Homo sapiens: one gene and its partners. The protein of the gene in region 1 purifies or fractionates together with the protein of each later gene. This does not show direct contact. Each region holds a gene or a part of one and is shown on either strand. Other genes may lie near its edges. The genes, in order: IL9R, EDA, TM2D3 and NETO2.

Region 1 (7,026 bases):
CAAGCCTCCCATACTGGCCGCCAACCCTCAGTGAAAGCCAACATCTTGGGCAGGCCAGAGCTCTGGGCAACCCCTGCCCCCCATGTCCTTCTGTGGTCTCTGCACACACCTGGAAGTTCCCATTGTGTACACTGTAGAGGGGCTGGAAGAACATCGCTGGAGAGGGCACGTTCTGGTAGAAGATTCTCTTCACCCTGAGGCCAAGAGAGGCCAGTCAGAGGCCTATGGCGACCCAGGTGGCCTGAGGTCACTGCAGAGGCTGAGCTTCCTTCCATCAGCAGGAGGTCCGCCCACCTCGTCCCTGCCACTGCCTCTCTCCCATCTCATCACATTCCAACCCACTCTCAGGGCAGGACCCAACTGGGCCTCCTTGCCTAACGGCCGCATAGAACTGATTTATACTGAGGCGCGCGTCCTTTACAGCGTGAGCTGCGATGGCGGGTTCAGAACGGGGAGTTACTAGCTGGGTCCTCAGATCACAGAGGGAGCCAGCACTCCAGGAACCCTGTCTTTGCCATCAGCAGAAGGTCTGTGGCTCCCACCCCACCCAGTGTCTCCCTGAGCACCAGACTTGCTGCCAAGGATCCACTGACCCTCCCACAAGGATGTCACCTGGGGCTCCAACCCAACAGGTCCAAATAGACTTCACCAACCTCCCTGCAAGGCTGTCCCCCATTTCCCCACCTCAGGGGTCACCACTCATATCTCATCCACCCACATGTCCCTTCTATTTCCCCTCATGAGACCCTGCAATTCTCTCCACTTTTCTCTATCTCCACTTCTTTCACTGGCTCATGCCAAATCGTCTCCCTGTGGGCACCTCACTGGCCCCCATTGGCCTCCAGCAGGTCCCCCATGTCCCCTTGTCCCAGCAATCTATTCCTCAAAACATAAACTAGGTTGTGTCACACAGTTTTACACTTTCCTTTGCTCCAAGGAGAAGCGAAGCACCCTCCCACTTAGCCCCACCCAACACCCCTCTCCCCACACCCTCTTCCTCACATCTGCGGCCTGACATGGCCCCTGCACCCTGTCTTGTAACCTGACATGTGGTGCATGAGGCGTGACGGTTTATTTAAGGAGGGCCCTTGTCCATCTTGTTCTGAGAACAGGGTCCTGAGCACACCAGATGCCCCAACTGTCCTTTCGTAGAACATGTGAACAAATGAACAAACCAAGCTCCTCCAGAGGCAGGAGACTAGGACCTCCGGCTCTTGATCTCGGTGACTCTGGGTCTGGTCGGGACCAAGCTGCCCTTATCTTCAGCCTCTGCCTCAGACCCCCCTTCCCTGCTCTCCCCTGGCAACTTGAGAACCCTCTTCTGGACCAGGGTGGAGACTCGAAAAGCCCACCCCGTCCAGGACCAGGCAGTGGAGAGGGGAGGGGAGGAACCAGACAAGGGCGGCCCTTGATGGCCCACCCACCACACACTCACACATGCACACAGTCACACATCTGCACACATACACTAACATGCACACTCTTGCCCGCTCACACATGTACACACACGCACACATCAGCCACCTACCTGGGCGACAGCTTGAACAGGAGGTAGGTCGGGCCAGTCAGCAGGAGAAAGATGGACACAGCAACAAGGGTGTTGCCTGGCCACCCCCAGGGTGGGATCAGAGGGCCTGTGGACAGGAAGGGCCCAGGGCTGTGAGCAGCCTCAGTGCCAGGAGGCTCCCCCCAAACCCACCTGGCAAAGGTGCGCCCTTTAGTGCCCTGGGCCAAAGTGGAAGGTTTGTGATGGGCCTTGGAGGTTTGTGTCACCTGCTGAAGGACCTTGTGATGGGCCTTGGAGGTTTGTGTCACCTGCTGAAGGACCTTGTGTGAACCACACTCCTGGGCCTCACTCTTCCCATCTGCCACAAGGTGGGTCATAAAGTCCCTGGGCCATCTCAGCACTGCAGTGCGCAAGGGTCAGTCCAGCCCCCATTAAGGACACTGAGGTCATGTCCAGCCTCCAGGCAGGAGCCCAGCCCTGGTGTGCAGCCCTGCCACCCTCACTCCTAACAGCAGCCACTAACTACAGGTTCCCAGGAAGCCCCAGAGTTGGCAGGTGTTTCTGTCCTCCCTACAGACCTCAGACCTTCAGAGGAAGGGGGTCAACTGAGGCATGGCTGCCTCGGGGAGGGGCTTACAGGAGGGTGAAAGGGTGCAGGGCTGAGGTGAACAGGGGAGAAGACGCCCAGCCCAGACTCCGCTGGAAGTGCAGCAGCCACAGCAGTGCCCACCTTGTCTCTGGGGAGCCTGGAAGCACACAGGCTGGCTCCACTCACTCCACTGGCCTGTATAACGCTCCTCCTCTACCACATCATCCTCCAGTGTGGCCATCTGGACACGCAGCCTGGCCTCATGGATAAAGCCAGGGTCCAGCTCAAAGGCTTCAAGTATAAGCCAGGTCACCCCGACAATGTGATCCCTGTGCTGGGCCTGCTGTGGGGGTGGGGACAGTTAGCAGGTGGTGAAGGTGGGGCTGGGTCCCTCAGCCCTCGAGAATACACACATGCATTATATGCTCATATAACACACTCTTGAACACACTTGTGTTAACACACAGACACACTCACCACATTCACGTGCACACACACACACAGAAGGCACACTCACACTCACAGACACAGCTGCGTTTGCCCACAAATACACATATGCACACACAGGCAAACATGTCTACAGGAACACTTTCACACTCATCACACTTGCATGCACACTCATAAACAAAAGTGTGTGCACAGAAGCAACTCACCACACTCACATACACACTCATACACATAGGCATGCCCATGTGCACACTCACACAAATGCAAGGCACAGGCACACACATATGTACACTTACATATAAACACACAAACATGGGCACACAAACATGAGTGTGCACAGTTACATATGTGTACACATAAACACATACATGCACACTCACCACACTTATGTGCACACACAGAGACACAGGCGCACTCACCCTACTCCCATACACACACATAAAGCATACACATCTGCATGCCAGCATGTGTGTGTGCACACACACCCCGCTCTAGTTCCTCCCTTCTCATCACTACAAGTTGACATCTCCCTATGTAGAGTGGGGAGTCTACCCTGGACTGCTGTTCCCAGGAGAGAGGCCCCCAGGGAAAGCCAGCCAAAGTGTTACCTCCCAGGCCTCTTCCTGCTTCTTGAAGGCCAGCTCATAGCTGAGAAGTGTGGTCATTGGCTCCAAGGCAGGACTGATGCTCCAGGTCAGGATGCAGTGGCCAGAACTGATGTTGCTCTGCAAGTCAGAGGGCGGGTCCAGCTTAACTGGAACAGAGTGAATCCATGTGAGGCTGAAGCCCCATGGGTCTGGGTGTGTCAGTCAGAACACACAAGACTGGGGTCTGAAAGACTCCCAAGGGGAATGGTCAAGGCCCTCTCAGACCAGGCACCTCACTGGGAGACTGGTCCACAAAAGCCCCAGGCGGGACAGGACAGCAATGACTTCCTCTGGCCTCTGCACCTAGACTAGGTGGTTTCTAAATCTTGCTTTCCCTTTCCTTCACAGTCTGCTGCTGGAAGCTTTTCCCAGCATCTTATTGGAGTCCTTCCTGGTATGACTGAAGTGCATTTCACATGACTCAAGTGCCAGCCCCTGCCCCAACTAGCAGCCGTGCATGTTTATTTCCTGCCAAAACCCTGCCCCTGCAGTAACCATATGGGCCCTCCCCTCCCAAGGGCCAAGCCTGCCCCCAGCCCTGGATCTCACTCGGCTGGGACTGAGAACACTCACTGGGCCACTCACAGGCTGCAAGGCCCTGCTCCAAACCCCCAAGCAGCCAGGATGTTCTTGCCAAGCGGCCCCGCCCCAGACCTATAGCTGCTGCTCACCGTGTCTCCGGGGCAGGTACTCCGGGTCCACCAGGCTGACCTGCTCCCTCCCAGACATGCAGTGGTGGAAAGTGATGGTGAAATTGTCAGATGGCACGAGCACTGCCTCAGGTGGCAGCACGACGGTGCACTCACTGCCCCGCAAGATGCACTTATGTGTGCCGCCAGGAGCCTGGTTGCTGGAAAGGGCATTTGTCAGCACCACGGGGCTGCTACACTGTCCTGGCATAGCTGCTTCAATCCTGGGGAACTCACCCTCATCCCTGTCCAGGTGGGCATGGCCCTCCATGCTCACCTGGTGAAGAGGAGCCAGGGGCTGGAGCCCTGTCCCAGCTCTGGGGCAGACCAGTGGCAATCGATCCTGAGAATGTTGTTGGTGAGGCAGGTGAAGGTTCTAGACCTTGGCCCTGGAGACAGTGACCATCAGGAGCCCACGGTAAGTACTTCAGGCCAGAGCTGAGCTCGGGGGTTGGGGAGGATCTGACAGCTGACACCCTAGCAGGGCAGTCACCAGTAAATGATCCCAGAATCTGTCCAGGGAAGCACTGGGAGGCCTGGGAAGTGATGGGCTCTGACCTGTGGTACACGGGCAAGTCAGATCTGGAGAGGCGTCAAGAGAGTGAAGGAAGGGAGACTACAGTCGGTCCAGGGAATGAAGGTAGGGAGGTAAAAGTAGGGAGACTAGAGACTGAGGTCCAGGCTGACCCCTAGAGGACATGCCCCAGCACAGTTTGGGCCAAACCTTTCCCTAGAGGCTTGACATCGGACAACCCAGTCCCCCAAACATGCCCTAGTTCTCCACCCACCTCATACAGACATTAGTGCCCAGCCCTCACCTTGTCCTTCCCCTGTGACAGAGACTCCCAAGCAGACACAGGTGCAGATGCAGATGCAGGCCAGGAGCCAGGTGCCCATGTCTCGCCTCAGGGCCTCACTCTCCAAGGTCCAGCCTGCAAGGGACTGGGCTGAGGGCCCTGTGCAAATCATCCCTCTCTGGAGGGGTGCTCCCCATGAATTGCTCCCCAGCAGAGTGCTCCATGGGTCCCCACCTGCACTCACACAGTGTCCTGTGTCCTAACACTCACACAGTGTCCAGCGTCCTGGACCACTGTCCAGGCTTTACTGATAAGGAACTGAGCTCAGAAAGGCCATTTGACTCAGCCAAAGACTCATGGCTGCAGGGTGTAAGGAACACCCTCAAACTTAGATCCTGGCCTCTGACTCAGCTAGGTCTCCACATCTGCCGAGAAGACTCCTCTCTGGGACAGTCATCCTCTGCCAGCCCATCCCCCATTCCCGGGCCCAGGCCCCATCCTGCAGGGGAGTCAGGGTTGGGGGAACTGGTCACTACCAACAACCACCATAGGTACATTTTCTACTTTAATTCTCACAACAGCTCTGTAAGGGAGAAGCACTGTCCCCGTTCACAGGCAAGGAACTGAGTCCCAAGGAGGGGAAATGACTTGCCCAGGGTCACACAGACAAATTCTAAGCAAATTTTTTTTTTTGAGACAGTCTCCCTCTGTCACCCAGGCTAGAGTGCAGTGGTGTGATCTTGGCTCACTGCAACCTCCGCCTCCTGGGTTCAAGTGATTATCCTGCCTCAGCCTCCCGAGTAGCTGGGATTACAGGCATCTCCCGCCATGCCCAGCTAATTTTTTTTTTTTTGTATTTTTAGTAGAGACGGGGTTTCACCATGTTGGCCAGGCTAGTCTTGACCTCCTGACCTCAAGGGATCCACCTGCCTTGGCCTCCCAAAGTGTTGGGATTACAGGCGTGAGCACCAGACCCAGCCTCTATGCATTCTCTCTCCCTTTTGTCCTCTTAAATAAAGACCCATCCAACTGTTCTGCCCCAGAAAGGTGGACGAGGGTGGCAGCAGGGTATCCATGCAACAGATGGCACTTTCTGAACTCTGTTGCACCCCTGTTCCAAGGCACCTGCAAAGAAGAGCAACACCAGAAGGGCAAAGCCCCCGGATGCTGGAGCGTGAGGCCTGAGCCCCAGGATCCCTAGGGGAGCCAGAGGTTGGCTAGAGATGAGGGGCTGGGTGTCAGGAAGTGCTTGGGTGTGGGAAGGCCGCTGACGCCCTATCACCCCATTTGCAACTCCAGATGGTACACCGATAGCCCCTAGGCAGGAAGCAGGGCCAGCCTGGTTATACAAGACTGATTACTGATAGGAGGAGGAAAAAACCAGACACGCACACAGACTTACAGCCTTAAAGGACCGCACAAACCAATGGGCAGCAGGCACTACTCTAACCCCACTCTGCCCCACTCCCGGCAGCGTATACAGGTACCCATAGGACAGTCCCCTGTTAAGACTGATGATCAGGAAGCCTCACCCTTTCCTAGAATGGAGCGTGCAGCCTGGAACCACCAGCCACAGCATGAAACACCGTGGCAAGTTCTCTGCAGCAGTGTCTGTCCGTTCTTGCAGCAGTTACTGGAAAGGTGGGAATGGGGAAGGCAGTCAGCCTGCTCTTGGGATATGTGAGGGCAGGGTTGGAGTCACCACCAGGACCTGGGGAAGCACAGGCACAACGGCCACAGCTGAGAGCTGACCCAGGCCCCAGAATGGACAACTGCTGCCCCAGCAGTGGAGAAACACCCACATCTATGTAGAATCAGGCCAGGCCAGCCACAGGCTAACCCAGGAGCAGACGGCTTGAGAGCAGGGAGTGGGATGGCTCCAAGCTCAGCAGGCCTCGTTTCTAGACAGGGAAGGGGGATGGTAGGGCAGGATCCACATGTGACACCTGAGAGCTACAAAGTAGGACCGGAGAGTTGGGTACAGCGACAAGGGGGTATGGCCATCTGAGGGGAAGTTCTCTGCTTTTCCTCTGCACTGAAAACTTACATCTGTACCTGGTAAGCTGAGCAGGGCAGGGTCACCACCCTCCTACAGATGAAGAAACTGAGGCTCAGAGACCTGGGACCTGCCCAATACCTGGCTCCTGACACCTCTCTTCTTGGCCCATTCCCACCAGCTTCCACATAAGCCTGTGAACTTCCCGAGGGCAGTGCCTGCGAGGCACCACTCAGCACATGCCCCAGCAGAAGGCACCACAGTGCTTTATAAATGGGGTGGAGCTGCAGGCAGAGCTGCCTTCCCCCATCCTTGACCACAGGGCCAGGCAGTCAGGGCAGATGCATACACCCT
Region 2 (7,026 bases), about 86 Mb from region 1:
GAGTTGCAAATGATTGAGATTTTATTGTAAACAGCAGTTTAGTTTTATACTATTATTAGTACTTAGCTTATTTATATTGTGAGTTAAGTAACTTTCTGTGGGCTTATCAGGAGAACTAGCCAAACTTTATTATGTTGATTGTATGAGAAAATGCATTTTTACATTCCAATCAAGTGACTCAAAAATACTACTCAGTTGAACCATGTGAAATTGTTGATTGATATTCAACCATTTTTGACAAAAATGGCAGTTTATTTTGAAATGCAGTCCTGTTGACAAGATGGAAATTACCTACACATTGATTTATTAATTTTATATTTAATACATTCATGTATCCTTCAAGATGCTAATCCTACACCTTAAGGATATTGGGTAAATCACAGAATTTTGAAGAAAATTTGTGTGGAATATTGGGGCTTTCTTGGGTCCAACCCATTTTTTTTCCACTTAATCAGAGATGGAGCAGACATGAGGACTCTGGAATTTTTTATTTTTTGAACTGATAATAGAATGAAAATGCAGATTCATTTGTTCTATTTTAGGCCCCAAATTAACCATTCTATTTTGAAGATTAAGTTTAATAATAATAGTAATAGCAAACATTTATTAAGTGCATGCTACATGCTAAGTACTGTTCTAACTCTGCAACTGTTTTATCTGCAAAGTACTATTATTATCCCTACTTACTGATGAGGAAACTAAAGTTTAAGTAACTTGTTCCAGGTTATACAGCTAGTAAGTGGCAGAGTTGGCATTAGAATCACTCAGTCCTACTACCGTGTTTACTGTTTACCTCAAGCACATGGTTTTACCACAGTAAAGCACTCATGCTAAAAGATTATGATTCAATTCAGCAAATATATATTTAAGCTATGATTATTAGTGAAGCCAGACCCATTCACATATGAAACATATTGTATTATTATCAGAGACCATTATAAGACAGTAGAGGACCAGGTACCAAAATTAGTCTTATAGACCACAAGTGCTATAGGAATCTCAGAAGAGGAGAAAATAATTGTGTACTTTGTCATGACTAACTCCCAGAAGAGCATTGACAAATAGTACCTCAGTATTGGATGCACAGCATTTTGGGAACAAACCAAAATTACATCATAAATAGCAATGTGGCAAAATCATGAATGTGTAATAATGAAGTCCAATGGGGAGCAGCAAATTCAAGGTTTTCTTTCTTTCTTTCTTTCTTTCTTTCTTTCTTTCTTTCTCTTTCTCTTTCTCTTTCTCTTTCTTTCTTCTTTTTTTTTTTTTTTTTTTACAGAGTTTTGCTCTTGTTGCCCAGGCTGGAGTGCAGTGGTGCGACCTCAGCTCACTGCAACCTCTGCCTCCCAGGTTCAGGCGATTCTCCTACCTCAGCCTCCCCAGTAGCTGGGATTATAGGCACCCCCCACCACCACACCCGGCTAATTTTGTATTTTTAGTAGAGATGGGGTTTCACCATGTTGGTCAGGCTGGTTTCGAACTCCTGACCTCAGGTGATCCGCCCACCTCGGCCTCCCAAAGTGCTGGGATTACAGGCGTGAGCCACTGCTCCCAGCCAAATTCAAGGTTTTCTGTTCAATTTTCTGTTCAACTCAAATTCTGAGTGAGCATCCTCAGTATGTGTGGGAAGTTAGAAATTTGTGGCTAGGCTCTCTGAATCCCAGAAATATATGAAGAAATGGGACCTGATGGATTATTTATTAGATATTCAGGGTGGAAGAAATGGGATTCAGAAATTAACCAAAATGTCATGCCTACATGATTGGAATAATAATGGTATCAAAAATAAAATGGTTTGTACAGTGGAGGGGAAGATGGGCTCAGGCTTTAGACACATCAAACTTAAGGTACAGGTAGACTGTCTATGGAAAGCTGGTTTTTTATGTTGGCTATGACTGAGTGGGGTCAACCTTTGACTAATGTACTTGTAATTTTTACAGATGGCCCTATTGAATTTCTTCTTCCCTGATGAAAAGCCATACTCTGAAGAAGAAAGTAGGCGTGTTCGCCGCAATAAAAGAAGCAAAAGCAATGAAGGAGCAGATGGTAAGTCTACTCAGTTGATCCTTTATCACTTCTGAATTATTTGTTAGTAAAAGTATCCTTTTAAGAACTACCTTCTTGGTAGGGCATGGTGGCTCACGCCTGTAATCCTAGCACTTTGGGAGGCCCACGCGGGCAGATCACTTGAGGTGAGGAATTCAAAACCAGCCTGGCCAACATGGTGAAACCCTGTCTCTACTAAAAATACAAAAAAAATTAGCCGGGCCTAGTCCCAGCTGCTTGGGAGACTAAGGCAGGAGAATCGCTTGAAACTGGGAGGTAGAGGTTGCAGTGAGCTGAGACTGTGCCACTGCACTCCAGCCTGGGTGACAGTGCGAGACTCCATCTCAAAAAAAAAAAAACAAAAAAAAAAAACCACTACCTTTTCAAGTGTGCTTCATCATCTTATATACTGTCCACCACAGACCCAAGGTCATAGACTATTTCTGCAGCCTAACCTACCAATCAGTCCTTTAACATAGAACTAACTATACAAGGATCCTCCCTCCTCCAACTCCAGATACCTTCAGTCCTTTCTCAGTATGTCTGAGAGCCATGATAGCATTTGTATCTCTCAAAATCACCCTCTATAAGGGCCTCATCTCTCCCGGAGATGTCCCACACCTATTAAGGTCAACAGGAGGATTTGGTTCTATTCTTGGAATTGACAGTGTTGTACCCTGCTAGCACTTACATGATGTGTTAATTCCAATGATAATTTTATCAATGTTGGTATCCACTACCATGCCCAAATCTGAACTAGACCTTCTAGAACTAGTTTATAAGTTTCTTGTGGGCAGAGATTTCATTTCTCTTTGTATAAGCCTAGAATCTAGCCTACTATCTGGAACATTGTTGGTGATTGTTATGTAAGTCGATGATGTTGACTGCCCCTTCAGCTAGGCAGTGATGTATCAATGGAAACCATCCCTGTTCTGGGTGTAATAGCTTTGAGTTAACTAGCAATGCATTCTGTGGGGCATAACAAAATGTTGAGCTAGCTCCTGGGCAGGGTCTTTGAATTGCTCTGATATTTCAGCATCACTCTGTCAATTGACATAATGCTACCCCTTTGGGCACAGGGGTTTGTAGAATACATAGCTCTGGGCTGCTGCAAAGGCATCTGGATTCAAAGACAGCATGTGTCTGGCTACATCTGCCAATAATATGTGTCTGGAGGGTTACAAAGCAATATGACTTTATACAGATGAAAATGAAAATTTTAAACTGACATTTGTTGATGTGAGTAAGGGCCACTGATGGAAGCAGTTTTAGAGGGCGGAAGCTATTAAAGAGATGGAGCCAGGACTTTGTCAGTAGGGGCAATAAGAAGTATAACTGGCTGAAATCTGAGAAAGAGCTCAGAACAAGGACCCCATAATAATACCAAAAAAAAAAAAAAAAAGAGCCAGAGCAGTAAGATAGGGTTTTCTAGTCAGTGGAGGTGGCAGCAGCATTGAGCCTTTGAATGGAGAACTGGACCAGTGGGGCCATTCTCTAGAGAAGTCATTTTGCATACAATTGATGACCAATTCAAGCCTAAGAAATGCAGTCCATGTAGTAAAAGTTACCCATTATTCACCTACTACTTGTAGCCAGTTTCCCAGAAGTCTTCTGGCTATGTGGAAGCAGGGAGCTAAGAAGCATGGACCCTTTCCTCTCCTAATCATCTCACCCTCTGATACATGTAAGTCTCTCCACCTTCAGCTTTTCCCCTGAGGCTACTCCCACAACCATCAAACTTTTCATAATCCCTGGTTGCAAAGGAAGAGAGGAGACAGGTGGTAAGAGCAATATCACCTTCTATAGTGGGCGTGGTCTTCCCTCCCTCTCTGAGTGGTAAGTCTAATGGCTTCTAAGGTTTACCTCTTCATCTAACCTCCGAAGTTTTCTCTTAAAGAAAATAATTTCCTCCTTTCCCTAAAACTACTTTATCCAAATTCAGCTACCAACGTCTCTGATACCGATCTTCCTTAGAATGTTTATTCTGTCCTAATACAAAACAGTTTTCTCTCTGGTCAAGGTCAAAGCCTCTCATTAATTTTTAGCACTTCTTATATACTTCCCTCCTGATCTGATACTCTAGTCAGTCACTAGACTCTAGTCTCTTGGTGCCAATGCCAAGTTTCTCATGCAGTCCAGGCATTTTTCTTTAATCAGTATAGCTTGGAGGAATCCAAGAGTCCCTTAGAGTTAGGAGTATAGAATGCCTGGGGGTCCTTGAATTTTATTAGATTTCCAACTTTTCACCTGGTGGTCTGTAGAACCATTTCTTTAGATGTGGCAGATGCTCCAATGAGTTAAAGAGTGGTAAGTCAATCCAAATCTCCTTTTCCTTTGAACCATTCTTGTTACTCTGATGAGCGTATACTATATTTATTCAATACACTCATCAAATATTTACTAAGTAAATACAGCAGTTTATATAGTACTTGAATAAACATTCAATAAGGATTTTTTTTAATATTCCCACTGCCTAGAAACAGACTTGGCACCTAGTAGACCCTCAATAAATATGTCCTGTTGCCCTCAAAGTGATTTACTTCCAGCATAAAGAGGCAGACAATAAATAAAGTTGGTTAAATTTGATAAGTGGTATGAAGAAAAATATAGCTGAGCAACAGGGAGAGAGAGTGATGGGGTATGCTGTAAGATGATCAAGGAAGGTACTCTGATAAGGGAACATTTGGGAAGAGACCTGAATGAAATGAAGTAAGAGCTATGCAAATGTCTGGGGAAAAAAGAAGCAGAAAATTCAAAGGCTCTGAAGCAGAAGAATGTTTGGTATGTTCCAGAAAGATCAGTGTGGCTGGGAGCAGAGTAAGAAGAGGAAGAGGGAAGGAGATGAGTTAAGAAAGCAAAATCCAATCTAGAGCCTTGTTGGCCAAGGTAAGGACTCTGGCTTTTATTCTGCATGAAATGGAGGACCACTGGAGGATTTTGAGCAGAGGAATGACAGGATCTGATGTATGTTTTAACAGCATTCCTCTGGCTGCTGTATTGAAAATAGGTGCAGGAAGAAAGGATACAAGCAGGAAGAATCTTTAGGAGAGTATTACAATAATCCAGGCAAGAGATGATGGTGGCTTAGACCAGGATGGAAGCAGTGTGGGTGGGGAGAAGTGGTCAGATTTTAGAGAGATTTTGAAGGAATGGCTGAAGGATTTTTCAGATTGATTAGATAAGGGATATGACAGACAGAGAAGAGGCATCAGTGACCCCAGGGTTTTGGACTTCAGGAACTAAACAGGTAGAATTGCCATTTCTGAGATGAGGAAGCAAAGGAGAGAAGCAGTGTAGAGGAATATGGGGAAAGAGTTTAGTTAGGCTTGTTAAATTTGAGGTAGCTATTAAACAGCCAAGTGGATATATAAGTCTACACTAAACATCACTGTGTATCATGAAAATAAGATGACTCTCTTTTGTACAAAGGACTTGTCATTGAAGAAGTGAGTCAGTCTGGAAACTGCTCTGAACAGAATAAGAGGTAGGATGGGATAGGTAAATCATAGTGGGGTGAGTTATGGCCAAAAAAAAAATCTTATCAGGTGTTGATTATAAATTCACAAATTACTTGATATGTTATAATAAAAATTTAACTATCTAAGCTCAGGTTTGCCTCACAAGTGTCAAAGAACAAGTCATTTACCTTGAAGAGTTAAGAACATGGCAGAAGTTCGTGACCAGCCTGGGCAACATGGTGAAACCCCGTCTCTACCAAAAATACAAAAAAAAAAAAAATAGCGGGGCACTGTGGCACACACCTGTAGTCCCAGCTACTCAGGAGGCTGAGGTAGGAGAATTGCTTGAGCCCAAGAGGCAGAGGTTGCAGTGAGCCAAGATCGTGCCACTGCACTTCAGCCTAGGCAACAGAGTGAAACTCCATCCAAAAAAAGAAAAAAAAAGAAAGAAAGAAAGAAAGAAAAAGAAAGTCTAGACCCTACTTCATTTGTTTGGTCATTCATCATTTAACAAATGTTTTTTACAGGTGCCCGCCACAACACCCAGCTAATTTTTGTATTTTTAGTAGAGACTGGGTTTCACTATGTTGGCCAGGCTGGTCTCGAACTGCTGACGTTGAGTGATCCGCCCACCTCAGCCTCCCAAAGTGCTGGGATTACAGGGGTAAGCCACTGCATCCAGCCTAGACTTTCTTTCTAGGAACTATAGATATTAAGCTTAATGATCTCCACAAATCCCTGTGAGAGAAAAAAATTTTTATAAACAGTTCATTAACTCTTGGAAACGGAAGGGATGTAGTGATCCTTAGGAGCTGCATAGGTTCACCAAGAACAAATCAGGCTGCAGAAGCCTATTTTCCTGTTTTCATCAGACTATTAAACTAGTTGATTAGAGGCATAGCATACACATAGTCTATCTTGCCTTTTAAAAAGAAAGTCAGTGGCAATATCCAGGGTATATACAATCTTTCTGACTCACCATTCAAGAATGACTAGGTTCATCTCAGTTTCTCCATTCAAATTACTTTATAAATGAAAGCATTGGCTAGCTAAGCAGGAGTCTCAAACACATGGTTAGTTTCAACTCTTAGAAAAGAAGTGAATTTCGTTTTCTTTACTACATTTCTTCCTTGAATTCACTGACTTGAGTTGGCCAGAAGTATTTCAGATCGTTTAAGTTTATTCGTACTAATTATGTGAGGCCTTTGGTTGTTGTTCTTCTTCAAAGAAAGTATGATACCTTCACTGTGGGTGTTGAGTCACAACAGTTCTAGAAATCTGTGCCAGGATTTCTTGCTGTGTCTTATCTTTGTGATGTGTTTCTGAAGTAATAATAGCTCCAGGTGGCTTGTTTGGTCATCTCTTGCACAGCACTCCAGAAATCCACAGAACTTTATTTTCTAGTTAGAATGAAATGTAGAATGTATTTGGGAGGTCATGAGGCCTTAGAATCAGGTAAAATGAATCCAGAATTCCCAAGGAGGTAGTTTCCATATTTCACAAATATTATTGTAAAAACATC
Region 3 (6,948 bases), on another chromosome or scaffold:
AACTTTATTTCATACTTAGAAAAATATTCTCCATTTTGGGATTATAACAGCAACTATCTGGTGTTTTCTGTGGTACTTCAGGGTTTCATTTTTCACATTACATCTTTGGACTATCTGGAATTTATTCTGGATAAGACAGGCGTTCCACTTAATTTTGTTCTAGAGAGCTACCAGGCATTCCGGCATTTACTGAATCCATCTTCTCACCACAGATAAGCACTGGCCCTTCAAAAGCTCATCTATGGCAGAAAGACACTGCCACCCCCTCTGTACACTAGCTGTCACTATTGAGAACACAGAATCCATCTGAACGAATTAGACTTGCTTCAGATATGCTAGTAGACTGAGATCTTCTCCAGTCCTACAAAGCAACATTTCTGTCAAGTGCATTTCCAGCAGACATCAACTGGCTTGACAGTTATCATTATAACTAAAACAGTAGTGAGCTGATATGGAAAGGTCTATTGGGTTTTTTAATTTATTTCTGCTTACATACTCAAAAGGGAAATCATAAAAGAATATAAAAATTCTTCAGAATTTCTTCCCAATAATCAAGTCTGAATTGTTCTTCTAACTTAAAGTTTACAATGAATTTATTTAGAATAAGTAAGCTGCAGTACTTACAACACAGGTAACAGATGGTTTCACTGCACAGTCAAAAGTGACAGGCTTCCCATAGGTACAGGAGAAATTTGTTGTGCAGTCTATACAGTCTGCAGGAAGCCTGCTACACAAACCATTGCTCGGACACTTCATCACATAAGGTGGGATTTCAGTACTTTCTGTGAGAGGCAAGAGAGAAGCTTATTCTCCTATAATACTGATTCGAATAACAGAGAACAATCTTCTAAGGTTAAGAGACGTGATCATTAGCAAGTAGACACTGCACTGGAAGGGAAGAAGCATGGGACTGGAGTCAGAGACACCTGCAATTAAAGCAGAATTCTGCCCACGGCCAGCTGTGGGACCTGGTGAGCACCACACTTGTAAAACATTACTTCATTCCTGCCTCCCACGTGGCCGTGAAAACTAAAGGTGCTCATATACAAATAATGTATAGAAAATTCTGGGTATACATTAAGGGCTTAAAAAAAAGACTATCATTTTGTAAGTTGAAAAAAAACTTACAGTAGGGTTTTGCAAAATCACAGAGGAAGTCTGTGGCAAAACTGGAACTAGAACCCAAATCTCTCCATTTCCAATCCCGTGTTCTTTTCATCTGAATTCACTAATTCAGAAATGAAGCCACTGACATCCTCAGGGCATCAACTTTAAAATGTCATTATTTCACACTGGTACTTCGATAAGCCACATTTGCTAATATAATATTTACAGTTTTACGCTACCAAAGTTCAAAACAGTTCTCTACTTTAATAACATCTTCAGTAAGCTGCAACTTATTTCCAACCAACCTAATGAGTGTGCAATGTATTTTTACCAACTGAAAGGATCAAAATTGCAAGTATTCCTGAAAAGAAGGGCTTTCAAAAGCCTGCAAGAGTTAAGAACTCTTGTGCTTTCTCTAAAAAGTAATCTGAGTTTAAAATTCAAGTGCACTGCTGTTTTTTACATCCAAATAAGAATCAGTAAAATATCTCTGCCAGTTTCAATTCACTGAAGTAATGTCACTTTAAAGTGATGAAATTATAGTCAGAGCCTCCACCTAGCAAAACACACTAATGCTTGTTTAAAACTGGTCCTACTTTACTCACTGTATTAAGGAACAATTCTACAAAATACTCTTTTTGATCCCGTGACTATGTGGCTGGAAGGTGGACACTTAGAATCACAAAGCAGAAATGACTTTAGGTCGTCAGACCAACCCCACCGCTTTAAAGATGAGGACCAAGGTCCAAAGAGGATAAATAATTTGTTCAAGATCCCAGTAGCAAAACCAGATCTAGATTTCAAGTCTCCATCAGTCCCGCTGTAATCCTTCCATTTCCACAGTCCTGAGGGAGCCTTTAATATTCCAACATCAGGAACAGGGTTTTAGCAGTAGAGGAAATTTGCTGAAGGGAAAGAAGCACGGACTGAAGGTTATTTTGATGGATGAAGTGGAAAAATAATAGAAATAAGGTGACAAATGAGCGTGGGATTGGAAAAAGAGAGGAGGCAGAAACGTCAAAAGGTATAAATACGAAGACTATCTACTGAAAATGGCTGTGTATCTACCCTTAATTCACATAATCTAAAATACAATAAATATTCAAAAATGGAAAGTGACTTCGTATACTAAAGGGAATTTTTATAAAAACAAAGAGAAACTACTAGAGATAACTACATGTATTTACTAGAATAGAAAACGTCTAGTACCTGCTGCCCTGGGAACTACTGTGAATGTGCGTGTTGGGCCCGGATCCTTTATTGACTGAGCCAGCGCCTGCGATTGCTCTAAATTTAAGGATCGTACAATTAGAGAAACACGTTATCCCGGGACAAGAAAACCTTATTTTGTGTGGTTAACACGGCGGGTCTACACCAGGCCAATAAGCTGCTCATGAAAACCTCACGGCTGGTCAGCCAGAAAACACAAAGCTTAGGGACGAAACGTCAACAGAGTAGACATCAGTTCAGGTCAGCCGGCAACGAGGGACCGAAGGATGACATCGCGCTCCAGTTCCGCCTCCCCGGCCCAGCCCCCAAGCGCTCCATCTCCGTGCCAGGGCTCCGCAGCCGCGATGGCGGGCTCGGTGTCGCCGGAGCGGAGGGGCGGCCTCGGGCCGGGCGGCCAGGGCGCCAGACTCCAGATGCAGCGACAAGCGGCCCGGAGCCCGGCACTCGGCCTCCTCCCCGCGTCAGCGTCCGCCCGTGGGCCCGGCCTCCTCGCAGCTCCCGGGGCCCTGCTGCCACTCAGCCCCACCCGGCGCTGAACCCAGCCTTTGACTCACCACCGCCCGACAGAATGCAGAACTGCGAGAGGAAGAGCAGCACGCGACACAAGGCGCGGAGGCCCCTCAGCGGGAGCACCCCTCCCGCCATCTTGCCAGCGCCTGCGCACTTCCGGGCCGGGGGGCGGGGCGCGCCTGGGAGCCGGAGCGTGAACTGGACGCAGGCGCGCTGCGACTCCTGGCGGCCGGCGTTTGCGCTTTCGCTGTCCTCGCGCGGGTCGCGGGTTTTCTTCCGGTTGAGCCTTCTGGGAGGTCCCCGAGGAGGATGCGAGCCTGGGAGGTTGTTCCATTTCCACGCGCCCCTCACGCCCTTGGACGAGGCCCTCACCCCTGGTTCCACTGCAGGAGACCTGTTAAAGGTCATCCGTGGACCGAAATGCGCGCCCGAAGCAACCAAGAGCAGAGGCGGGCGAACGCGGGAGGCTGGCCGCCCCAGTGTGTGGTCGGATGTTGTGTGCTGGATCTCGTGCGAAGGTTCCGAGGACACTATCGCGTGGCGTTTCATCCTAAAGACACTTATTTACAGTCGGGGAAGCGGCCCCGGGACGACGAGGGCCCGAGGGACCCCTCCCCTGGGGCCGGCGCTCAGGCCTGCCGCGGCTTTCACTTCTGGCCGGCCTCTTGAAGATACGCAGCACTTCCAGAAAGTTCCTCTCAGGCCTGGAGAAGCAGGATGGCCCGAGGCGCTGGGAAGTGAGGGGAGGGTCCAGAGCCCAGCCCTGCCTGGGGAAGGTCGCGGCCGTCTGGGGAGCCGCGCTCAGGCCCCAGCTTGCGGAGACCCTTGCCGGTTTCTGTCACAGCACACCTGGGAGAAAGCGCTGGTGACAGGTGCTCTCCTCCCACCCACGTGCTTCGGGATCGTTCATTCCGCGGTCTTCTGACTACCACCCCCTCACGTGCATGTTTGCTGAATGACTTTTTAAAAAATACATGGAAAAGTGCCGGCACATAAGCCCTGAATGTTAGCTTTAAAAATCGTATCACGGCCGGGGGCGGTGAATCACGTCTGTAATCCCAGCACTTTGGGAGGCCCAGGCGGGCGGATCACGAGGTTAGGAAATCGAAACCATCCTGGCTAACAACACGGTGAAACCCTGTCTCTACTAAAAATACAAAAAAATTAGCCAGGCGTGGAGGCACGCGCCTGTGGTCCCAGCTACTGGGGAAGCTGAGGCAGGAGAATCGCCTAAACCCGGGAAGCGGAGGTTGTAGTGAGCCGAGATCGCGCCACTGCACTCCAGCCTGGGTGACAGAGCGAGACTCCGTCTCAAAAAATAAATAATAAAAATCATATCACACAATCTGCACCTTATACTACTACACAAGCCTGATATATATTGTTTTGTTTGCCAACTGTTTCACTGTTCACATCCCTCAGGAAGTTAACTAAATGATCAGTATATTGAAAAGAGATTATTTCTTACATTTCTTTTGAATTTCACAGCATATCGCAAAATAAACAATACTTCTTGTTTGGTAGCTGAATTCTCTATTGACATAATGCCATTTTAATTCAGTTCTGAGCACGTAGAGCATTCCTCTCTTTAAAATCTGAAATCCATTTCAGTACATAAATCCATGGAATGTCATCCCATCAAAAAAGTAACAACTCTAGGTGAGCGGCTTAGTGGTGGTAGAAGCCCACAGCTGAAACGCTGGAAACACTGATGCAATTCATTTGGGAATTTATTTTTTTCTAAAGCGGAACAAAACCTAATTATGAATAAGAAACATTTAAATGGCAACTCTTAACCTATAGTGCAAACACCAGATTCCACAAAACTGAATTCCTTTGTCAGTAATCCAATATTTAGCAGTAGCTGCTGCTTTTGTGGTTGTTGGTTAGTTAAAATTAAGTAATGATTCCAGTTTAGAAGATAAAGTTTCAGTGTGAATTTTAGTAGAAGTCATAAAAATACCTGAGACATATTAGAAAATAAGATTTTCCCTCCTATTTAAAAAAAACTCTGCAGACTTTTATTTGAAGCCCATCTTTTGAAAATCACTAACATTTCATAATCATTTCCTAGTGTTTTGTTTCACTTTCTCGATGAATAATATTTCCCCATTTAAGTTTCTCAAGGCATTGATTGCTGGAAAATTTCCCACGTGCCCTCTAAACGTCCCCCGTGGACATGAGTAAATTAAACTTCGTGCATGTCAGCTACACGTTCATCGTCTCCTTTCTCAGCTGAGGCCATGAGTGGACCCATCAGTGGCTCCAAAGTCGTAGAAGTACTAACATGTTAAGAAAAATACATTTTTAAGGGTCAAAACAAAGTTACACAGAAGCAAATATCAGGGAAGGACTTCAAAAGGCCTCCTCAGCATTGAGTGTCCGTGTCTTCCTGAGATTCTTCAGTTTATCAATGGCAGAAGTTACTAAAATCTCTCCATGAATTTTGTTGTCTCTTGTTCGCACGTTTACAGCATTATCTATCTTTTCCTTTTCTCCAACCACTGCAGAAAAGAAAGGTAAAGAAATGTATTTTAAATCAGCAATTTACCAAACATTAAGTCAGCAGTCCCATGACATGTTTTTATCAAGTTTTTCTTCACTAATATTAAATATCATCTAATGAGCATTTGGTTCATCCTCTGATAGTTAAGTTTCTTGAGGGAAGCAATGACTTCTGATCCCATCTCTCTATTGTCCACCTGAGAGAACAGCTCTTGTGGTCCTGGGGTGCAGATGAGAGGGGGGAGCTCTTACAGACTCACACTGACTGCACCTGGCACTAGGGCGCAAATGAGAGCGGGGAGCTCTTACAGGCTCACAGTGACCCCACCTGGCACTAGGGCGCAAATGAGAGCGGGGAGCTCTTACAGGCTCACACTGACCCCACCTGGCACTAGGGTGCAAATGAGAGCGGGGAGCTCTTACAGGCTCACACTGACTCCACCTGGCACTAGGGCGCAAATGAGAGCGGGGAGCTCTTACAGGCTCACACTGACCCCACCTGGCACTAGGGTGCAAATGAGAGGGGGGAGCTCTTACAGGCTCACAGTGACTCCACCTGGCACTAGGGCGCAGATGAGAGGGGGGAGCTCTTACAGGCTCACACTGACCCCACCTGGCACTAGGGTGCAAATGAGAGGGGGGAGCTCTTACAGGCTCACAGTGACTCCACCTGGCACTAGGGCGCAAATGAGAGCGGGGAGCTCTTACAGGCTCACAGTGACTCCACCTGGCACTAGGGCGCAAATGAGAGCGGGGAGCTCTTACAGGCTCACACTGACCCCACCTGGCACTAGGGCGCAAATGAGAGCGGGGAGCTCTTACAGACTCACAGTGACTCCACCTGGCACTAGGGCGCAAATGAGAGCGGGGAGCTCTTACAGGCTCACAGTGACTCCACCTGGCACTAGGGCGCAAATGAGAGCGGGGAGCTCTTACAGACTCACAGTGACTCCACCTGGCACTAGGGTGCAAATGAGAGCGGGGAGCTCTTACAGGCTCACACTGACCCCACCTGGCACTAGGGTGCAGATGAGAGTGGGGAGCTCTTACAGGCTCACACTGACCCCACCTGGCACTAGGGTGCAGATGAGAGCGGGGAGCTCTTACAGGCTCACGCTGACTCCACCTGGCATACCTGATGAGCCAAGGAGTGGACACCAGACCCATGCGAGCCAGCCAGAACTTTCTGGAATGTGGGTAAAAAGTTTGTTCTCTCTAGTGACCCATATTGTGAGATGATGCAGGAATCTACAGCCATGCTTCTTGCCACACAGAAGGAAGAAACCGGTCTGCAGATAAGTGGAATAAGGTAGATATTCAAGAGAAGCATAAAGAACCAGAGCAAGACAGGAACGAGAAATGGGGAGAAATACTCCTGGTGAGGGTTGAGCTCCTGATTGCTCTTCTAGTGGTTTGGCTATTTAATTCTACCTTTCATGTCATGGGATACTCCAAGACCCTTCCAACAAATGCTGTCTTTGTCTAAACCAAGTTGAGATTTCTGCCACCATAAGAAGCCTGACTGAAACAGCACAATACCTACTCTGGTGTCAAACATTATCATTGAAACACTGTCAATAGAACAATGCTATGCAT
Region 4 (7,026 bases), on another chromosome or scaffold:
CTGTGTTATGGCTGGTGCACTGTGCACCCCGAAAGAACAGCTTGGCTCTCCAGCCCACTCTGTGACAGTCCTCACTGCCTCTTCAGTGACCGGATGCAGCAGACTGCAACCTGCAGGCAACCTGGGACAAAACGCATTTTTTTCTTTAGTTCATCTTCACTTGAAGATTAATGAATTTGAAAACATAAAATGGTTCTAAGTGTAATAAAATAAAGTTGCCCTTATCATAACTAGGATTATTGTATTTTGGAAGCTAGTGGATAGGAAATGCCAACTTTGCCCCGGAAGGAAATACAGATTCTGTTGGTATAAGTGATCTAAATTATTTGCCACTTCTAGACTTTAGAAATTGAGGCAAGCAAGGAAATCAGAACAAGTTTTTAATTCTAGTTCAAGAGTCAAAATTCTTTTCTATAAAATGCCAAATCTAGGATTAAGCATATTCTCATATGGCCTGGAAGTTCATCTCTAATAAAAATCTACTGCTTTTAAAAAGCTTACACTAGACAGTGCATACTAAACATGCACCCTAGTCATTAGCTTTTTAGGCTTTGGTAGTCATTAAACCAATTGCAAAAATACATTTTTAAAAAGTTAAAGTAAAGCAAATTCAGAGTTTTGAATTATTAGCAGAGGTATATAAAACATAAGTGATTTTGCAGAAAACTAAAATATCCAAGATAATCTTGTTATTTACAGTAACTCAAACTCCAATCATTCTCCAAAACTCAAGAGATATGGCACACAAATATTTAATTTCTAGAATACACGTCTCCTTTAGATTTAAAAAAGATCAAAAAAGCAAGAACACAGGAGCTCTTCCTGCCTAGTATCGAGCCTGTATACTGTTAACAAACATTGCTTAGTAAGAATTCACGGTGCCAAGGAATCATGGCAGCAAAACTGTAGAACACAATGTTACATACATTTAAAGAAAAGGGGAAATATAATGCATTGAAGAAATTACAGAATAAATTACATTTCAATTCAGAATGATTGACAAGCTTACATGGGCTGCTAAACAGAAGTGCTTGACTTTTAAAACGTACAGCTGGGCTGGGCGCCTTGGCTCACTCCTGTAATCCCAGCACTTTGGGAGGCCGAGGCGGGCGGATCACGAGGTCAGGAGATCGAGACCATCCTGGCTAACATGGTGAAACCCCGTCTCTACTAAAAATACAAAAAATTAGCCGGGCATGGTGGCGGGCGCCTGTAGTCCCAGCTACTCGAGAGGCTGAGACAGGAGAATGGCATGAACCCGGGAGGCGGAGCTTGCAGTGAGCCGAGATCACGCCACTGCACTCTAGCCTGGGTGACAGAGCGAGACTCTGTCTCAAAAAACAAAAAAACAGAAAAACAAAAACAGAAGGCCAGGCGCGGTGGCTCACGCCTGTAATCCCAGCACTTTGGGAGGCCGAGGCGGGTGGATCACGAGGTCAGGAGATTGAGACTATCCTGGCTAACACGGTGAAACCCCGTCTCTACTAAAAATACAAGAAATTAGCCGGGCATGGTGTCGGGCGCCTGTAGTCCCAGCTACTTGGGAGACTGAGGCAGGAGAATAGCGTGAACCCGGGAGGCGGAGCTTGCAGTGAGCCGAGATCGCGCCACTGCACTCCAGCCTGGGCGACAGAGCGAGACTCCGTCTCAAAAAAGAAAAAAACCAGAGTACTGGGGTTCTTGAGACACTGGTGCTGAGTTCACTTCTGTGGGCTTCAGTCTTCTCATTCATACACTTGGGCTAGATAGGTCTTTCTTGGATCTTTAAAACCACCAAAAACTCAATGATCCTTCTGGGTCTAATCAGTGTGATTCAAGGCATATTATTTTTAATGTCATATAATTCATGTCACTTGCAATAAAGTGACATGAACAATATATAGCAGACCCCATTTTGCAATAAGAGTATAATCTCCTTTGAGAATTATTCCTGAAATCACAACCAGGCTTCTCCCGTCCCCTCTCATCAGTGAACACACTCCTCAAACAGGGAAGCATTCTTCTCATCAGACATTGGCAGAACCATACAAATGTTCAGAGGCAGACTTTCAGGAGGTTCTTTTAAAGTCTAACAATTCTATGAAACATGACAAAGACACTGACATAAGCGCTGTCGGGTTAAAGGAGTCTTTGAAATCTCTTTTGTGATGTGAAATGTGAACATTCTTTGCCTTTTGTTAAACGTTTAGATTGACACTCTCCCCACACACAAAAGGAATATCACATCTTATTCCTACATGCTTTAGATGTTGGGATTAGTAGGTTTCCTGCAATAGATCTGTGGGCATTTGGGGGATGATGCGGTGAATTGCAGATGGAAGATAATGGTGACAGTATTATACAGGTATACTTAATGCTGTTTCTGAATTGAAGATATTTATCCCTTCCAGATTTGCATTTTGTGTTCAACACTGGGACACTGTGTGGGGTACCCTGCGTGACAGTTAATACTGTGTAATGAATTCCACAAGATTGCTAAATTTCATGTCTTCTGTTATTAAATTTTATGGCTTTCATTTTAGTAAGCAATTTATAAAGTTTTCTCACTGATCTCAAAGATTAAAGGCTGTATATACAGCAATTAGCATTATTCTGGCAATAATGCCTAAGATTTATTAGTTCCATTCTTACCTCTTCCAAAAGCATAGAGAAGTTTAATAAATAAATGAGATCTAATGCCCATCTATGATTCAATGAAGGTGTATAACATGTGACAGGCTAAGGCTGGCTTAGCTATTGATCATCTGGTTCTTTAGTTCTATCCCTGAAAATACAGACTGACCCTAAACCAATGTTCCTAGACGACATTAAGTTGTGCCTTCACTGGGTTAAGAAGCACCATTATAACCTCTGTCTCCATTTTGCATCTTTTTTACATTCTGAAGAAATGTTCCTATATACAGACCCTCATGCTGTAGTTCAAGAGGAAATTAGCCTCTGCACATAAGTTTTTTTACTGTGAAAAGCAAAAAGTGTTTTAGCAGCCAGAAAATTCAGAACCAAACTTACTGTCTAAATGTTACTTGCTACATTGACTCGTATAAAACTGTGTACTTCTATTTTACTGTTATGTCTTCTTTAAAGGCTCTGTATTTTGTAGGCCTCTTCAAGACCTTATAAATAGAAATCAAATTTCAAAAACAAAAATGTAGTTACAAGTGACTATAGTTTAGCATACTGTATTATTTGCTATTATAATCTAAAGATTAAATATAGGTTTAACAGCTATTTTAAAAAATGAATAATTTTACATAGAAAATATGCTAACTTCCCTTTTATCATCATAAGATCATAGTTGTTGTTATATTAAGTATTTATTATGCTGTTCAAATGTTAGCTGGTGTAAGTTACCTACTAAAATGCTTATTCAGCATAACTACTGAAAAAACTTAGCTGTCTCTGGTATTAGTTCATTGAATATTATATGCATCAAGTCTTTTCATGTTTCCACGTTATATTTTTAAAACAAGAAACTAGGCTGACTTAAAAAAATTTAAATCATGAATACATTATGTATAGGTTTTTCTGTCTCCTAAATATTATCTACTTTTTTAAAAAACAAAAATTTTGATACAAGAAAGCACTCTGAGGCAGTATATGTGTATTAAATTTAAGGTCACAATTTTCACTAATCTGAGAAAACACATATATGTAATATTTAAAAGTTAATGAAATCCAGTGAAACTTCAACTTATTTCATTGAGAATTTACTAACAAAATATAGAAAACAAGAATTTACCTCTTTTAAATGGCATGTCTGTATTACTTACAATTTGATAAATGAGTTCCTTTCCATACATACCTTAAGATCCACAACCTTGGTGGCATAAATAACATGATTAAAGGGTCAGGTACAATGTATATTTTAATATGGGATTTGTGTAGTGATTTAGAGCATAAATATCACACAGTGAAAAATTTATCACAAACTAAATACAGTAACAAAAGGAAAGAAAGAGCTTATGTCCACATTTCCAAGGTCTTTACAATAAGTTATAGCGTCCAGGTCCAACACAGCATATTTGCATACAAAGCCACTGATGTGAACACTGAAAGGAATCTGTCCTGTAGGTCTTTCATCTTGATTTAATAAAGTTTGTACAGTATCAAATAATATCAAAAGTCTAAAAAACACAATGAGCTTTTATGTTTATAAATTATTGTTTTTATACCATAAAAAAAGTCAAAAGTGCAGTTTAAAAAAAAGTGGAAGTTGTTATTCTTGATAAGAGCTAGAAAAATGTCATGTCCCAGTTAAGAAGCAATCTCAAGGCTCATCCAATTTCTAAGGAATTTTAACTGGCATCTAACCTTGGTTACCATATGCTGTAAGCAAAACCAACAGAATGGGAGCTATGTAACAATCTAGCGAAGAGAAACATTGCAAATAAATGTAATTATAGGCCTCTCCCAAAGTGAATGAAATGATTCTTTACTGGAATGAATGGGCTGTCACTGAATGTGACTATACTTGGTAAACTTCAAAGGCTTGCTAGAAATTTTTATCTTTTTCAAATTTTTAGTCATAGCTGACAATGGTACATATATCCCAGGATTATGAAATTTTCTAGTATAACTGAGAAAAATATAATTGAAAGGTAATAAATCATATCATCTATTATTTCTCACAGAAAATAAGGAATAAGGGCCCAGTAATTAAAAGGCAGAAGTACAGAGATTAGCCAAGAAGAAACAGATGGGTGAAATACAACTGGGTCTTAATTGGCACAGTAACTAGCTGTATTTTGACACACTCAAGAACAAATGCCTATACTGAAGTATGTGGTACATTAACCACTTGTACTTATGTAAGAAAATGAAATGGTAAAACGATAGGCTTATAAAACAAATTAAATTTAGAGAAAGGAAAAATAAAAGGAATGTAAAGAAAAATCAAGTTTATTGTGGCATCAAAATATTGACAGAGCTGTTATCAGTCAAGAGCAGTCTTCTTGTTGCTAAAACGAAGAGGCAGCCTGAGCCTGGCTCCATCCAACCACCTCTTCTAATGCTCTTTAACTGGCAGTGCTTCCTATAAATGACACCAAGCAATAGAGATGATTATTGTTTCCACTGAATAGAGTAAGTTCCTTGATTGGTTTAACATATATAGACTGCCTGAGAGAATAAAAACATCACCATACAATAGGTTAACGGTAAATCAAGGTCTTCGTAGTTGTGATGGGAGAAAAGGGTTGGCTGCTGGAAACAGTATGGTGCCCTGGAGGCTGCGTACGTACACACCCTAAGAATTCACATCACCATTAGCAGAAGATTAGAAGTCAATGGATATGGATGCTTGTGCAGAATCTTCTCGCCCCCTGACATAAATTTCACAGGGAATCTCCTCCATTACTCGGTCTTCCAGGGCCTGCTCAGGGCACTCATGTCCCTGTTTGAAAGTGTAACTACTTTTCTTGAAGGTGCTATTAAATGTTTTCATTGGCTGTGGTTGTGCAAAGTCATTTCGGAAAGGAAGTTCCATGGAACTGAGGTTGGTCCTGCTTTGTTTGACGCTGGAGGCCTGCGACCCACAGTGGTGGTCGTGGATGCAGCGGGAGGCGGTGGAGGAGCGCCGCATCTTCTGGTAGTTGTCCAATTCTTCCGACAAGTCTGCCAGGTCTGCAGAAATCTCTTTGTCCCTTAGTGAAAACAGTTCATAATGAGGAGGATCAAACACTTCTTGGAACCCGGTTTTATTAAAAGCGGTTTTGCAAGCCATGACCTTTTTTCGAGGCTGTTTCACTTGTACTAAAATAGAAATAATGAGAAGGACCAAGACAATCCCTGAAGTAATGCCAATAATTGTTCCATGAGTCTTAGTGATTTGTTCAAATACTCCTGCTTTTTTCTTTTCTGCAGAAAGAAAATGAGAAACGTTAAGTTTTCAAAATACATTAATATGAATCCTGGTACAAATTAGTAAGGTATTTTTAGGTAAAACAGAATACTTGGGCCAAATATACTACAGACAATGCAATTTACAATTAGGTTTTTAAACAAATAAAACAACCCTATTATAATTTCTGGTTAAAGTTACCAATCGCAGTACTGATAGATTACAGAAGATAAAGTTCTTGGTCCGTTTCTTCAGAAGACACATAAATGCATACATTCTGCAAATCAAATCAAATATACAAATATAGACTATGCCAAATAAATACTCTTGTTCTATCAAGTTTAGCTTTCTGCTTTATGGTAGGTTTGACCAACTGCTGTGTTCAGGTATACCCGCATCTACTGATGACCCCAGGGAGAGCAAACTAACATCATCAGACTAACCCATCCAGTATATTATCATGACCTACTGTTTTTGAATGATTAACTGAAAACACTTCATGTCGAGTATTTACGACAGCCATATCAGATTAGATCACCTTTCCACAGTAAGATATTTATTGAACTCTTACAGCAGGGGTCCTCAACCCCTGGGCCACAGACAGGAACTGGGTATCACTGCAGGAGGTGAGCTGCGAGTGAGCGAGTGAAGCTGCATCTGTATCTGCTGCTGCTCCCCATCACTCGCATTACCCGCAGCACTGCCTCCTGTCAGATCAGCAGTGGCATTAGATTCTCACAGCAGCAGGAGCCCTATTATGGATAACAATAATGGATTATTATTAGTGTGCTTACTTCTGTTAGGAAATAAACTCCTGGCTTGGAGGCAGAAGTCCAATAGAGTAGTATTAAGTATTTCAGTGTAAAGAAACAAACAAAACATATGAAAGTCAAGAAGTGAGGCAGCTTATTATTTTCCCATTCAGTATGACAGAAGCCCAAGTGCATGTGAGGGATATAGGCTGTGAGCTCCTTAGGAGAATCTAATGCCTGATGATCTGTCACTGTCTCTCATCACCCCCAGATGGGACTGTCTAGTTGAAGGAAAACAAGCTCAGGGCTCCCACTGATTCTGCATTATGGTGAGTTGTATGATTATTTTATTATATATTACAATGTAATAATAATAAAGTGCCCAATAAATGTAACGCGCTTAAATCATCCTGAAACCAACCCCCCTGCCCCACC

What was found.
Region 2: the proteins of IL9R (region 1) and EDA purify together in Homo sapiens (affinity purification with mass spectrometry; 3 studies listed by BioGRID and IntAct, with this or other methods). This does not show direct contact.
Region 3: the proteins of IL9R (region 1) and TM2D3 purify together in Homo sapiens (affinity purification with mass spectrometry; 2 studies listed by BioGRID and IntAct, with this or other methods). This does not show direct contact.
Region 4: the proteins of IL9R (region 1) and NETO2 purify together in Homo sapiens (affinity purification with mass spectrometry; 3 studies listed by BioGRID and IntAct, with this or other methods). This does not show direct contact.

What each region holds. Positions count from the first base shown.
Region 1 is NC_000023.11:156,000,691-156,007,716, reverse strand, and holds part of IL9R (interleukin-9 receptor isoform 1 precursor), read right to left. Parts: intron 6,388-7,026; exon of another isoform or gene 6,310-6,387; coding exon of another isoform or gene 6,209-6,309; exon of another isoform or gene 4,849-6,208; coding exon of another isoform or gene 4,812-4,848; coding exon 4,698-4,811; intron 4,269-4,697; coding exon 4,157-4,268; intron 4,041-4,156; coding exon 3,862-4,040; intron 3,298-3,861; coding exon 3,152-3,297; intron 2,440-3,151; coding exon 2,238-2,439; intron 1,913-2,237; exon of another isoform or gene 1,885-1,912; coding exon of another isoform or gene 1,700-1,884; intron 1,635-1,699; coding exon 1,529-1,634; intron 195-1,528; coding exon 110-194; intron 1-109.
Region 2 is NC_000023.11:69,955,087-69,962,112, forward strand, and holds part of EDA (ectodysplasin-A), read left to right. Parts: intron 1-1,940; coding exon 1,941-2,046; intron 2,047-7,026. UniProt on the Homo sapiens protein: Cytokine which is involved in epithelial-mesenchymal signaling during morphogenesis of ectodermal organs. Functions as a ligand activating the DEATH-domain containing receptors EDAR and EDA2R. May also play a role in cell adhesion.
Region 3 is NC_000015.10:101,649,380-101,656,327, forward strand, and holds the start of TM2D3 (TM2 domain-containing protein 3 isoform a precursor), read right to left. Parts: upstream 3,003-6,948; 5' UTR 2,983-3,002; coding exon 2,892-2,982; intron 2,395-2,891; coding exon 2,317-2,394; intron 783-2,316; coding exon 625-782; intron 1-624. Other genes in the region: TARS3 (threonine--tRNA ligase 2, cytoplasmic), read right to left, coding at 5,203-5,351. UniProt on the Homo sapiens protein: Probable positive regulator of Notch signaling.
Region 4 is NC_000016.10:47,077,946-47,084,971, forward strand, and holds part of NETO2 (neuropilin and tolloid-like protein 2 isoform 1 precursor), read right to left. Parts: intron 5,857-7,026; coding exon 5,276-5,856; 3' UTR 1-5,275. UniProt on the Homo sapiens protein: Accessory subunit of neuronal kainate-sensitive glutamate receptors, GRIK2 and GRIK3.